2 linked regions of the Homo sapiens genome follow. The protein of the gene in region 1 interacts with the protein of each later gene in a biochemical or structural test. Each region holds a gene or a part of one and is shown on either strand. Other genes may lie near its edges.

Region 1 (7,665 bases):
ATAAGGAGCAGAAGCAAACACCAGCACGGGTAATGCGTAAGAGAAAGATGTCCATTCAGTCTTTGTCAGTAGCGTTATTCATTGTAAGTAATTTGGGAAATGCAAATGTTTCTACTCTTTAACCTTGTGATTCTCAAGTCTGAACACTTATCTCAAGGGAATGATTTAAAGGAAGAAAAAAGAACAACTAACGGTCCATAATTGTTTATACTAGCATTGTTAATCCTAGTTCAAAGAACAATAGATAGGTCAATACAAGAGGAACTATGCACCCATTAAATCATAACTGAGGAGAAATTGCTGAGTATAAAATAACAAGTAAAAAAAAGAAGCTGTATCTATTCATCAAATCAACTGAAAACATTATAAATATGGGCAAATATTGCAAAGAAGAAAAATTGTTAGTTTTTCAGAATTGATGGGGTTGTGGGTGAAATTTTAAAGTGTTTTTTCCAGTGTTTTAAATATGCTTTAGTAAATTTAAAATTATAATTAGAGAAGTATATGCTGCATTTTCAAAAGATCTCTTTAAAGATGGTTATTTAAAATATTTTGCCCTTGGGAAAAAACACTGTTTGAAATTTTACTTCTGGGAACCTTCTTATTAATGCTGAATAAATAGGTAGGTGTAAGTTACTACAGTTCAGACCAGGGGCTTCCACCATTGTTAGTGACATCCTGGACACATTCACCCAAGAATCCATAGGGCTCTTATGCTGAGACTGGCCCCCAGCAGCTTGAAGCGGGGCAAGGATTTTCAAATGGTGCTCTGTGAAGCCTGGGTCCCTGGAGGTACCTTGGGCCCACAGTCTCAGAAGATGAAGGATCCAAGCCCTTCTATCCCCTTCAACCAGAGCAGCCCCATTTGCATCTCCCCAACACGCTGGCCTCCTACAGATCAGCTTGTCTGAAATGTTGTGCAGCTTAAAAAAAGTTTTAAAACTGTTCATGAGATGGCCAAACCATGAGATTTGGAGTCAGGAGATCCTCGGGCCTCAGTTTCCTCAACTATAAGAGCAAGAATCCCTGCCCCTCTTAGCTGACTGGGAAGATTACATAAAATCAGAGGTAACAAAATGGTTTATACTGTGGAAAATGCTATGGGAAGTTTATTAATTAAGATTGAATTAAAAGGACTAGGTGACACGGATGAACCTTGAAGATGTTTTACTAATTGAAATGAGCTCGACACAAAAGGACAGATACTGTATGATTCCATTTCTAGGAGGGATCTAGAAGAGTCAAATACATAGAGACAGAAAGTAGAAGGTGATCACCAGGGGCTGGGGAGGGAGGGAATAAAGAGTTATTGTTTTAATGAGTATGGCATTTCAGTTTGCAATGATGAAAACGTTCTAGAAATGGATAGTGGTGATGGCTTCATAATATGAATGTACTTACTGCCACTGAACTGTATACTTAAAAATGGCTAAAATGGCAAGTTGAATGTTATATATATTTACAATAAAAAATAGTCCCCCACCCCCTCTGAAAAAGGGAGTACTATATAGAGTAAAATACAAAAGAAAGTCAAGAAAGTAGAAGATTGCAGAGCTGGTGGGACTAACCCACTGCTTTAAGGAACAGGTACCATATGACTCAGAGAGGAGGGAGATAGCCCAGCAGGAGGGAGATGCCGCGGGGACAGAGGCACAGAGGCTAGAGGGTGAGTGGCCACAGAGAAGAGGCTCTGGGAAGAGGGAAGAGCCAGGAGCCTGGCCTGTTGGAAACACTCATCTCTCTCCACTCACCCATGCCTCTTTGCCCACCTCATGGCACTATGGTTACAGTTACAAATTATTTTCATGTACCTATCTCAATGCTCCTGCCACATCTTTTTAAAAATGTTTCTTTTGAGACAGGATCTCACTCTGTACCCCAGAGCGAGACCCTAGAGTACAGTGGCACGATCACAGTTCACTGCAGCCTTGACCTCCCAGGCTCAAGCGATCCTCCCACCTCAGCCTCCCGGGTAGCTGGGACTACAGGTGTGTGTCACCATGCCCAGGTAATTTTTGTATTTTTTGTAGAGATGGGGCTTCGTCATGCTGCCCAGACTGGTCTCAAAGTCCTCAGCTCAAGCAAGCCACCTCCCTCCCAAAGTGCTGGGATTACAGGTTCACCTAGCCCCCTGCCACATCTCATACAATTTCATTCGTTCATTCAACAAATACCTATGCAGGCCCTAGTAGTGCCAGGCATTGTTGTAAGCAGTGGACACACACACACACACACACACACACTCCTGCCCTTGGGGGCTTCTTCTCTAGGGATAATAGCTGACACCTAGATAACACCTGTCATGTACCAGGTATTGTTTTAGGTACTTTATAGATATTAGCTGCTTTAATCTCCATAATCACCTAAGAAGGCAGGTACTGTTCTTAGCCTGGTTTTACATGCCCAGGGAGGTTGAATAGCTTGCCCAGGTCACCTGAGTGGTAGCAGGGCTTACAGTTCCAACTCGTGGTGGGGCTCGACATACTCATGCAGGAGAATGGGGCCGAGGAAGGGTGTTGGGGGCACTGGGAGCAGGGCTGGACTTGCCCAGCTAGATCTAGAGGGGTCAGAACCCTACTGAGAACATCGGCAGAGGTGAGTGCAGAGAGGGAGGCAGTGCGGGGGCTGAAGCCTCATTTTCAGAACCATTTTCCCCGCCATGGTTCTGGCAGAAGGTGGACAGGGAACCAGAGGCTTGGAGGAAGGGGCCTGCAGCTACCCAGCAGGGCAGGGCTGGGGTATGGACTTTGTGGTGACAGCAGATTAGTAAGCAAGAGATGGCCGTGATGCCTTGAAAAGAGGAACTCTTCAGTTTGGGCAGCTTCCTGGGTGTACGAGGAAAAGGAAGTGTCAAAAGTTCAGGCCTGAGGCACCCTTCCAGGCCCACTAGATGCCAGCATGGCTTAGGGAGGGCTGACAGCGAGGCCTGGGGGCTGGTTGGAAGGAGGCAGGTTTGGAGGTGCTGAGCGGGCAGAAGACACAATCGGATTCATTCATTCACCAGCAAATGTTTCCTGAGGAAGACACAGGAAGTCTTGTGTTTACACATTCACCTTCCTTGATCTGGCACAGACAAATCAGCACTCGCTGAGACAGCATCTGCCCCAACCCCACCTACCTTTTTCCTGCTCAGCTGCTTCACTAAGGTCTGGAAGCTTGAGCCCCACTAAGTTCTGATTTCTCATCAGGATGTGCTCCTTTGTGGTAAAAGAAAGAGATAACAATTTCAGATGATGACACTGGGCTGGGCTGTTCTCTTGGCTCTGTCTATGGTTCTGCGACCACTATCTTAGGTGGGAAAGCGGGGCAGCCTGAGAGGTGGGTGGGCAGGCATGGCATGGTGAGGCCTGAGAAGCACCAGGAAATAGTTCCTCTCCCAGTCCGTGAAGGTGCCTGAAACGCCACTGTCAGCACCACTTTCCATGGGTCAGGGACTACCCTTGGCATGGTCTTTTTAAACAAGTCTGTGGGCTTCAGGGTAAATGAACTGCTTGGCCTCACTGTGGCTGAGGTTTGCAAAGGACACACAGGGGCAGAACTAAGGGCTCTGGGACAGGAGGGTCCCCTGGGTGTGTATGGCGCTGCTCCTGGAAACAGCTTTGGCGATCTCATGGCTGGCTGGATCTTCCTGCCCTGTCATTCCGGGCAGTGACTGCTCACTTCCAGGAGCTGCGATTGCCCCACACACTCAGGTCATCAATGGCCTTTTATGGCACCTCTTGAGTTTTTAAACTCTCCAGAAAAGTGAGGCCTGAGAATTGCTGGCTTAGGGCCTCAGCTGGCAGAGCCCGGGGAGAGATGGGATGTGGCCCAAGTGGGCTCACACCTGCTCTAAGCCAATTAGCACCAGACCAAGGACCTGAGTGGAGGCACCTGGCAGAGCTCCTTGCCCCTGTGACTTATGGATCTTCAGTCTGCTGTGTGGCAGAGGGCACTTGGGAATGGTTTGTCCCCCGAGAAGGGAGGAAAGGAAGGGGCCAGCAGAGGGTGCTCATGATCCAAGTGGAAGTCATGGTCAAGGACCCTTTACCCATTTGGTTAGCAAGCCAGAGGCCCACAGCCCATCAGCTTCAGCACACTGGAGTCGGGTAGGGGCTGGGCACTCAGGTGCCAGGGTAGTGGTTAGTGACATGGGGCCTCCAGGTTCCCTGTAACTTCTCTGGGTGGGCGAAATCTGCAGGAGTGTAGGGAGTGAGGAGGCTCTGATAACCAGAGGCCCATGAAGGCAAATCCCTGGCTATCGGCCCCTTGGCTCCAACTTCCGCTAGAGATCCGGGACTGTGGCAACTCCTCTGGGCCCTGTGCTGTTTGATCCGCTAGTTAGTTGGGTCTTTCTGACTAGGAGGAGTTTTGTGTGTAAAATGTTAACATCAGCAGCCACGCCCCAGCTCCCCTGTGCCTCCAGTTCAGAGCATCATGAAGGTATCTGAATAGGATAGTGGCCAGCATTGGAATGTGTCCCTGCCAGCACACAAATCCCCTCAATTGTGCTTGAGTGCTATCGGGCACCTTCTTTTCTTCCCTGCCCCACATTTCCCTCTGTAGAGGAGCCAGGAGAAGCCTCCTGCTCTGAGGGTGCTGGGCCTCACTCTGTGGAATCCAGGTGCCTTGGTTTATATTCCAAGTGGGCCTTCTGGAGGAGACAGGACTGGTCAGAATTGCTTTGTCCTGTTATCTGGTCTCTATCTCTGGATGCCCCCAATCATACCCTGCATAGGGTGGCAACCCCACAGGAGACCGCTGTGCCTGGTTTGATGGCCAACAGAAGCTGAGGGGACACCATGGGCACTGGAAGAAACTCACCATGGGCGGAGCAGCCTTCACACTTGCAGATGGACTTAAAGCTTTTGTTAACAGGCATCAGGAAGGAAGGCTTGGGGGCATCACAAAGGAAATCACTATTTCACCCTTGCTAGCTAATCCTAGGCATGACTGGGCACTCCATCAAGGGATTCCTGTTTATGAGCCACTGACTCCGGTTGGAGGAGGAAAGCAGCCCAGGACTGAGGGGCCCACATGTCCCTCCACACGTCTGCCTTCCCCTGAGATGTGGCTTTGTGTGGCAACTAGATTTTAGACTGAGCTCTGCCTGGTAACTGGCATAAAAAAGCACCTAAAACTGGTATTTAGGAAAGAGATGCCACATAAATAGGCCTGACTTCTCAGAGTGGGAAAATTTACGCCCTCACAAGGCCCAAGTCCAGGCCAGAGCTGCCCTGGCCAGGGGCCCAGACTCAGCCCTGAGGTCTTCAGCCCAGGGAGTACCTGGAGTACACACTCTGCCCAACTGGCCCCCAGGAACCCACCTCTCGGAGCTTGGTCAGTTTCTGCATCCGCACGGGCTGCACTTGTATCTGAAAGTCTTTGAGACCAGGGGCCTTGGCCAGCTTGCCGCCGGCCTTGCCTGCAAAACGCTTTTCTTCCTCTGCCAGTGGCAGCTTGGCAAGCACTTTCTGCAGCCGGGGGCCAGGTTCTTCAGGGCCACTGTCCCAGGAGAGCCCTCGCAGCAGCGGGGGCCGGGACACAGTGGGTGGAAGCTCAGCTTTGGAGCCAGCCTCGGGCCCCATCGGCTCTCCAGCTGGGCCTCTCCCCTGGGAGGCTGGGGGACCCACTCCTGCCGCATCCTGGGTTGGACTTCTCGGCAGAGGGCTGCCCTCCCAGCCCGTTTTCAAGAGCTGCTTCCCCAGCTCGCTCTCCACGGGGCCAGGCTGAGGGCTGTTCAGGGCCATTTTCCCACTGCTGTTTGTAACAGGAGCTAGGCCTTTGGGTGTGGTCTCGGGGTACTGGAGGGGATCGAAGTTTTCCTTTTGTTCTATTGCAATCTCTTTGGACTTCTCAACTGGAGGAGGACGAGGAGCCAGCCTGCCCTGAGACACTTTCCTCTGGTCATTCTGCTTCCTGTCAGCTAGCCCTTTGGGGACGTTCTGAAAAAGACAAGGTAGAGCTGGAACCCTCGGGGGCAGGTTGAGGGGAAACAGGTGAGGCCACTTCTGCTGTGGAGTCTCTGCCCCCACACACCTTGCCAAGGGGCCCATTTGTATAAGTGTGTATGGGGTATGAGTGGACGATGTGGAAGGAGAGGGCTTCTGCCCGAGGTTTGTCAAACAGACAGGAAAATGGAACCTGCAATCCAAAACCAGCCAAGAATTTCCCAAGGGATAGGAGCTGAGGAAAACTGAATAGAAGGCAGCTTTGGCCCTAACTCAGTTGCCCCAGATCTAGCCTTGGTGCTGCTTAGCAAGGCCCTTAACTCTTAGGGACCCAGGTTTGTGAACCCTCTGAAATTATGTATGTGTATGTCTGTGTGTGGAGGGGTGTTTTTCTAGGAAAAACATCCACAGCTTTCAACAATTTCTCAGAGTTCCATGATCCAAAGAGGTTAGGGATCATTGGATGGGGTGATTCTTGCAAAGGTGATGTCTTCCTGCTCAGAAGCTCTAAGATTCTGCAGTGTTAGTTTACTTTGTTCATTCCCCAAGGGAAACCTGGGCCGTGAGCAGCACGTGGGTCTGGGGGTCTGTGTGGCTGCCTCGTGTGTGCTGAGACTCTTCCAGAGGACTGTATCCCAGACCCAGTTCCAGGTGACACTAAATTCTACTGCTGCCCTTGAAACACTGAGCACGTGGGCCCCTCGATGTGAGCAGGGTGGGGCGCTTCTGTTGCTCATCAACAAAGATGAGGTTTTCCCGGCTTCCCCAGACAGAATCCCAGGCAGGGGCTGGCGCTTTCCTGCCCTTTTCACTGGAGCTGACAGGAGCCACAGTCTCACCTGGCCTGGAGGTCCCCCTTGTCTCCAACCAGCAGCCTGACTGGGGGTCAGCGCTGTGAGTATTGCCTCCACGGAGTTCACCCCCCTGAATCCTGCCTCCCCACCCCTCCACCTTAGACTTCTAGTCACTATAAGGCAGGGGAATCTGCTGTTTCCCCAGCCCTGACCCTCCACTCATACGTGTGCATGCACACACACTTGAAGGCTGCCCAGGAGCCAGCCTAGGCTTCTAGGAGACTGTGCCCCCCACACTCAAATCATCCAAAGGGAGCAAAGCTCAAACTCACAGGCTCGCCAGGGTGAGGTGAAGAGACGTCGGCCTCATCCCCCTTCTGCTGGAGAAGGTGAACAGGAGTCAGTCAGCAATGGGAAGAGACCGTGTTTCCTCTTGAAATATCCCCAAGGAGGCCCCCTAGCAGTGGTGTTCATGCCCTCCACCCAGCACCCTCATCTCCAGTGGGTCACGAAGGGCCTCCTGGTGTTCGGGGTAAGGGGAGAGACCCATTGGCATAGAAACAGCACAGCAGGTGGGGGGTCCTGTCACCTGTGGTGGTGCTCCAGGCAGAGGGGATGGCGGGCCACTGCACACATCCAAACCTGGAAGGGTCCAGACACTAGTGAGTGAGGCCCAGCAGCCCAGGCCCTCAGCTGTGCTTTCAGCCACATCTCCCTCCCCGGGCTATCCTCCCTTTGCAATCTCAGGCCTGGAAGATTTGCTGACTACCTCCCGTGTGCCAGGTTCTCAGGTGGGCCCTCACAGAATGTTCACAGAGACCACAGGAGGAAACTGAGGCACAGGGAAATCAAAGTCTCATGGCCAGGAAATGTCAGCACTGAGATTTGGGCCCAGGCTGCCTGGCCCCGACCTGAGCGTGCCCTGCCGCACTGATGAGGGC
Region 2 (7,665 bases), on another chromosome or scaffold:
GATCCCAGTGAGTGAGGGTGGTAATGGCATGAGGTGGGGTAGTATCGTTGGTGTTCCTGCGGCCCCTCCTAATGATTTTGGACTTCATCTCAAGTATAATCAATGAGTCAGTAAGTGTGGAAAAGGTCAGAGAGTAGAAGAAGCATCTTGAATGACCAAGGACAGCATGAGGGCTTAGACTCCAGCACTTAAAAGAAAGCAAGAGAAGAGCAGATAAACTTGACCCATTTCTGGTTTCACTAAGTGATTTACTTGGAAGGGCTTCCACACTGTTTTGCTATTAATCTATTTTCATTCCATTGTCACTATTAATCTAAGCCCCCAAATATGAATTGATGTCATCTGTGGAGTTTATAGCAATTCAAGTGTTCTCATGTAGAAAATAAAAGTAATATCTCTTGTCGTGTCTCTCATTCTTGCAGCCCACCTTTCTCAGGCCCAGATCCTATGAAAACCTATAACATCATATTGAGGGGGATTGACATGATAGAATTTCCAAAGAAGATTGCCAAAAATGCTGCTAATTTAATTAAAAAACTATGCAGGTAAGTATTTCAACCACATTATTTTTGAAAACATCATAATGTGAAAAAATTAGATTTAATAAAACCATTATTTTATTTTTAGGGACAATCCATCAGAAAGATTAGGGAATTTGAAAAATGGAGTAAAAGACATTCAAAAGCACAAGTAAGTGTTCTTTCTGCAGAGTTCTGAACACGTGACATCATTTCCCCAGGGTGTTGCTTTTTAAGTTATTGGTGTAAAACTAGTATAATTAGCCTATAGGAACATCCAAAGACAGCGTATAAACTAGTAAGGCTTTTAAATGCCTTTCTAGTTGTGATTATGAAACCTTATTTATATTTATCTGACAACCCTGTAACATAAGAAGCTGAACTCAGTTTCTTACAACTCATACCAACTAGCATTTTTTTCCCCTCTGGCACAAAGGGGAAATGTGTATTTTAAATTTGGGGATTCTATTCTCTACCACAGAATTACAAATAAAAGTCCCCTACTGTATCTTACCTGATTTCCTAAAGACAAAATATATTTTTCCAAGCATTTCCTAATTAGATGTTATAACAGGAGAAAAACATAAGTACAGAATACAGTGTTTTTTAAACAATAGCAACATCTTAAATATCAGACCTTCCCTATGTTGATTGGATGTTCTAAAGCTAAACTAATTGGGTTTTCTCTATTTGTTTGTGTAACACTGACAGGAAATTCACATCCTTATCAAAGAAACATGTTTACTAAAATATCTCTGAATATCTGAAAAGCCTGCTAAGAATTTGTTGTAAGCATTTGCTAATGCTGAAACCCTTCAAAGACAAAAGAAAACAAACAAGCAAAAACTTTAGTCTTTTTTGGTTCTTATTTTCACAGAAAAACTGTACACAAAATATCTTTATTCTTCATTAAAAAAGGGAAAAAAAGAAGAAAATGGGACATGTAGAGACTATGACAATGATGTGAAAAGGTTAATTAGCTGACACTGTGCACTGAATCAGTGGCAAAAATGGAAAGTTAATTTTCTATCCTGACTTTTCATGCCCTGGTTCTACCTCCTTAAAATAAAATATCCTGTAAGGCACAGGGCCAGACACATTATGACATGTATTAAATTTTAATTATAGTGTAGGAACAAGGTCATAGAGACATTATGACTGAATTACAAGGAATAAGTGTTGCATGTTAATTGGTGTTTAAAATTTGACAGTTATACTTTTAAAAATATGTATTTCATAAAATAAACTATTAGGAAAACATATGCAATTAAATAGAAAACATTTTTGTCACATGAAAATGTTTGCCTAACTGCTTCCCATTAGCCATGGACATTGTATACACTGCAATGAGAAGCTTTTAGCTGACACAAAATGTTTTTATCAACGTTTTTTCCTTTTCTAGATGGTTTGAGGGCTTTAACTGGGAAGGCTTAAGAAAAGGTACCTTGACACCTCCTATAATACCAAGTGTAAGTAGACTTTCCAGCTTATAATTGTGTGACATAATTGATGGTGTTTATGTCAGTCAACAATGATCTGTTATTTTTAAAGTTTAATCCTATGATTAAGTTAAACAAACTCTAGGAAAAATGTCACATTAAAATAATGACATATTCTAAAATCCAAACTTGAAAGCAGATAAATTTGGGGATAGTCACTGTAAATGTGTTTTACTCTTCTCTTTTTTAACTATTCATTTGATTCAAGTTTCCCTCATTTATGAACATAAGTTAATTTTTAGCATGGGAAATGTTCAAAATATAGAAATGCAGACAAAAATATATAGGTGAGAGGATCACTTGAGGCCAGGAGTTCAAGAGTTCAAGACCAGCCAGCCTGGACAACATAGTGAGACTCTGTCTCTACAAAAAAAGAAAAGAAAATACTAGCCAGGTGTGCTGATGTGCACCTATAGTCCTAACTACTCAAAAGTCTGGAGCAGGAGGATCACTTGAGCCCAGGAATTTGAGCTTACAGTGAGCTGTGATTGTACCACTATACTTCAGCTTGGGTGACAGAGTGGAAAGACCCTGTCTCTAAAAAAAGAAATAAAATAACACTTTTTCAAAGAGTCTTTACATGATCACTCTTTTTTTTTTTTTTTTTTAATTTTTTTTTTGAGATGGAGTCTTAATCTGTCACCCAGGCTGGAATGCAGTGGCGTGATCTCGGCTTACTGCAACCCCTGCATCCCAGGTTCAAGCAATTCTCCTGCCTCAGTCTCCTGAGTAGCTGGGATTGTAGGCAAGTGCCACCACTCCCAGCTAATTTTGGTATTTTTAGTAGAGACACAGTTTCACCATGTTGGCCAGGCTGGTCTTGAATTCCTGACCTCAAGTGATCCTCCCACCTCGGCCTCCCAAGGGTTGGGATTACAGACGTGAGCACCGCGCTGGGCCTACGTGATCACTCTTTTATTTTTTTATTTTTTTATTTTTTTATTATTATTATACTTTAAGTTTTAGGGTACATGTGCACAATGTGCAGGTTAGTTACATATGTATACATGTGCCATGCTGGTGTGCTGCACCCATTAACTTGTCATTTAGCATTAGGTGTATCTCCTAAAGCTATCCCTCCCCCCTCCCCCCACCCCACAACAGTCCCCAGAGTGTGATGGTCCCCTTCCTGTGTTCATGTGTTCTCATTGTTCAGTTCCCACCTATGAGTGAGAATATGCGGTGTTTGGTTTTTTGTTCTTGCGATAGTTTACTGAGAAATGATTTCCAATTTCATCCACGTCCCTACAAAGGACATGAACTCATCATTTTTATGGCTGCATAGTATTCCATGGTGTATACGTGCCACATTTTCTTAATCCAGTCTATCATTCTTGGACATTTGGGTTAGTTCCAAGTCTTTGCTATTGTGAATAGTGCCGCAATAAACATACGTGTGCATGTGTCTTTATAGCAGCATGATTTATAGTCATTTGGGTATATACCCAGTAATGGGATGGCTGGGTCAAATGGTATTTCTAGTTCTAGATCCCTGAGGAATCGCCACACTGACTTCCACAATGGTTTAACTAGTTTACAGTCCCACCAACAGTGTAAAAGTGTTCCTATTTCTCCACATCCTCTCCAGCACCTGTTGTTTCCTGACTTTTTAATGATCGCCATTCTAACTGGTGTGAGATGGTATCTCATTGTTGTGTTGATTTGCATTTCTCTGATGGCCAGTGATCCAGTGATGATGAGTATTTTTTCATGTGTTTTTTGGCTGCATAAATGTCTTCTTTTGAGAAGTGTCGGTTCATGTCCTTGGCCCACTTTTTGATGGGGTTGTTTGTTTTTTTTCTTGTAAATTTGTTTGAGTTCATTGTAGATTCTGGATATTAGCCCTTTGTCAGATGAGTAGGTTGCGAAAATTTTCTCCCATTTTGTAGGTTGCCTGTTCACTCTGATGGTAGTTTCTTTTGCAGTGCAGGAGCTCTTTAGTTTAATTAGATCCCATTTGTCAATTTTGGCTTTTGTTGCCATTGCTTTTGGTGTTTTAGACATGAAGTCCTTGCCCATGCCTATGTCCTGAATGGTAATGCCTAGGTCTTCTTCTAGGGTTTTTATGGTTTTAGGTCTAACGTTTAAGTCTTTAATCCATCTTGAATTAATTTTTGTATAAGGTGTAAGGAAGGGATCCAGTTTCAGCTTTCTACATATGGCTAGCCAGTTTTCCCAGCACCATTTATTAAATAGGGAATCGTTTCCCCATTGCTTGTTTTTCTCAGGTTTGTCAAAGATCAGATAGTTGTAGATATGCGGCGTTATTTCTGAGGGCTCTGTTCTGTTCCATTGATCTATATCTCTGTTTTGGTACCAGTACCATGCTGTTTTGGTTACTCTAGCCTTGTAGTATAGATGCAGAAAAGGCCTCTGACAAAATTTAACAACCCTTCATGCTAAAAACTCTCAATAAATTAGGTATTGATGGGACATATCTCAAAATAATAAGAGCTATCTATGACAAACCCACAGCCAATATCATACTGAATGGGCAAAAACTGGAAGCATTCCCTTTGAAAACTGGCACAAGACAGGGATGCCCTCTCTCACCACTCCTATTCAACATAGTGTTGGAAGTTCTGGTCAGGGCAATTAGGCAGGAGAAGTAAATAAAGGGTATTCAATTAGGAAAAGAGGAAGTCAAATTGTCCCTGTTTGCAGATGACATGATTATATATACAGAAAACCCCATTGTCTCAGCCCAAAATCTCCTTAAGCTGATAAGCAACTTCAGCAAAGTCTCAGGATACAAAATCAATGTACAAAAATCACAAGCATTCTTATACACCAATAACAGACAAACAGAGAGCCAAATCATGAGTGAACTCCCATTCACAATTGCTTCAAAGAGAATAAAATACCTAGGAATCCAACTTCCAAGGGATGTGAAGGACCTCTTCAAGGAGAACTACAACCCACTGCTCAATGAAATAAAAGAGGAAACAAACAAATGGAAGAACATTCCATGCTCATGGGTAGGAAGAATCAATATCGTGAAAATGGCCATACTGCCCAAGGTAATTTATAGATTCAATGCCATCCCCATCAAGCTACCAATGACTTTCTTCACAGAATTGGAAAAAACTACTTTAAAGTTCATATGGAACCAAAAAAGAGCCTGCATCGCCAAGTCAATCCTGAGCCAAAGAACAAAGCTGGAGGCATCACGCTACATGATCACTCTTATACTTTCATGGCATCTTTGTTTCCATAGCTCTAGCCAAAGTTTATTATATAGAAAGATTTTAGTGATTATTTGTTTTAATCATACAGTTTATTACTCACAAGGGTATAAACTCTCCAAGGATAAGAACCATGTCTGCTTGTACTTACCACTGTGACCCTCAATACCTGCTACATAGTAGATACTCAATGAAATAGTCACTAATAGGGAATAAATACAGAATGCACTTAAAAATTCCAGCTTGGAATTCCACTAAAAAAAATCCACTAAAAAAAACCTGTCCATTTTTTACAGGTTGCATCACCCACAGACACAAGTAATTTTGACAGTTTCCCTGAGGACAACGATGAACCACCACCTGATGACAACTCAGGATGGGATATAGACTTCTAATGTATTTCTCTTACCTGCTTCTGCCTTGCTGAAGACAGCTTTTTCTGAGACACAGCTGCCAGCAAACCTGAGGGAAAGAGAGAAGATTAGTGCTCGGGGTCACCATGATGCCTTTGATCGATGCTGCTCCAGTAACTACAGTGGCATTAGGACTTACCGCTTAGATGACAATAGTGCTCTTTACATGTTTTCTGTTTGAACCTAAAATAGCAGTTGACATGGTGGTCCTGAAGCAAAGCCTTTCACCAGTAAAAGATGTTTTCTATTGTTGCAATGACCTTGCTTTGCTCTGATTATAATTTGAAAGACTGTAGGAAACACTTCAATGTAGTATAAGAGTCTGTACCTTGCTGGAATATTCAAGAAGATGAAAGAATAATATATTGGGTACAATAGATTACTATGGTACAGAAACTGGGCTATTCCCTTTCTTCAAGTGAAGGCTGTGGGATCTATTACTGCAGGCCGGTGTATATACCATACAAAAGAGGACCACACATCTGTTGGTCACAGAGTTCATGTCACACCAGTGCTAGAAGTTTCATGATTTTATTTCCCAGCAGTGCTGATGACAAGACTGAATGTTACCTTTTCTTTCTGACAGATTTTAAAAATTGATATGATAAAAGCACAACTGCTATAGATTCTGCTGAGACCTCTCATAGTAGGTATATATGAGTTTTCACAGAAGACTGAAAAATAATGCATGATATTTGTTTGTTTTTTTTGATAAATTGGCATGACAGAGTGGGGAAAAAAAGCAATTCACAAAACCATTTCATATTTTTTAAAATATTGTGCTTAAAGATGGTCCTGGAAGTAAATGACTAGCAGCCAATTGGTTTTACTTAACATACCCTCAAACTGAGGCTTAAAGTATTCCCTTTTATAAAAATAAATGCTTGGGGTAGGGTGGAGTGGGGAGGGATTAAAACCCATCCAAAAAATAAATAAAAACTATATAGGTGCTATGTATATCTTTCATCTGTAAATGTCAGTGTCTGAACAGACAACACAAATTCAAATCATTATACGTGTAGCCAGAAACTCAAGCATTTTCACTAAAGTTATTAAACCAAACTCCTGTCCAATTTCACTTATACAACATAGTCAGTCTAGAGTTGAGAGACAAAGGTAATTATAAACCTATTTGAACTAGCTTCTTGTCTTAGGCCTGAACCAAAAAACAACAAACAAACAAAAAACAAGAATGAAAAACAGAAATAAAAGAAGTAGAAAAGACAAAGAAAGAAAGCCCAAAGTCAAAGTTGTTAATATTTACAGGTTTACCAGATCTGGAACATTACTTATTTGAGGTCAGAGAACAAAACAAGAACCTGGCCAGGTGTTGATTACCTTTTAGTGAATAAGCTGAGTCCATATACTTGTCTAACTAAGAAAGCAGTACAGAGGAAAACAGGAACCTGATTTTTTTAAAATAAATTTTAAATAAAATAGAATTACTACAATTCTGCAATTTCATACTACCTAAAAAAGACTAGATTTGAAAATGTCAAGCTGATTTACTTTATTCACATGGAGAAAAGAATCCACAAATTAAACTGAGTCCTTCACTGGCATGCCAGTTGACTATTATTAGCTGTCATAAGTAACTCAGCCATTTGGAAGCATTTCCTGGACAAAATTACATTATACCTGTGAAGAAAAATATAGAAGCTTTCAAGCTGTCATTCTGTTTTGGCCCTGTGTGAATTTGGTATATTAAATTGACGCTTGCTTTTTTTTTCAGTAGAGTTTTCTTTTTAATCAATCAAACGCCTACATTTCTGGAAGAAAAAGTCCAATTAGATCATTACACCTTAACTAAGAAGGCAAATCTTATAAATTTTGCTTGAATTGTTCTTACTCAAAACTACCTTAGAATATGGTATCTTATGAAAATATAATATTCTTAAAATTTTGGAGGATAAAATGAAAAGGGTATAAACTTCAATTAGAACTTTAATCCTAAAATATTGTTATTCTTGTATTTTTGGAGTTTTCCGTCCCTTACAATTTCTCCAAATTGGTCTATTCCCCAAGATATCCACTGTTTTCTACAGATTTT

Evidence for each region. The genes of interacting proteins can lie anywhere in the genome.
Region 2: of the proteins of IRAG1 (region 1) and PRKG1, one has a biochemical effect on the other in vitro, tested with the Homo sapiens proteins (one study listed by BioGRID).

Annotation. Positions count from the first base shown.
Region 1 is NC_000011.10:10,620,660-10,628,324, forward strand, and holds part of IRAG1 (inositol 1,4,5-triphosphate receptor associated 1), read right to left. Parts: intron 7,367-7,665; coding exon 7,314-7,366; intron 7,105-7,313; coding exon of another isoform or gene 7,102-7,104; coding exon 7,057-7,101; intron 5,925-7,056; coding exon 5,307-5,924; intron 3,198-5,306; coding exon 3,119-3,197; intron 1-3,118.
Region 2 is NC_000010.11:52,288,304-52,295,968, forward strand, and holds part of PRKG1 (cGMP-dependent protein kinase 1), read left to right. Parts: intron 1-422; coding exon 423-545; intron 546-627; coding exon 628-690; intron 691-1,920; coding exon 1,921-1,987; intron 1,988-5,498; coding exon 5,499-5,597; 3' UTR 5,598-7,665. UniProt on the Homo sapiens protein: Serine/threonine protein kinase that acts as a key mediator of the nitric oxide (NO)/cGMP signaling pathway. GMP binding activates PRKG1, which phosphorylates serines and threonines on many cellular proteins.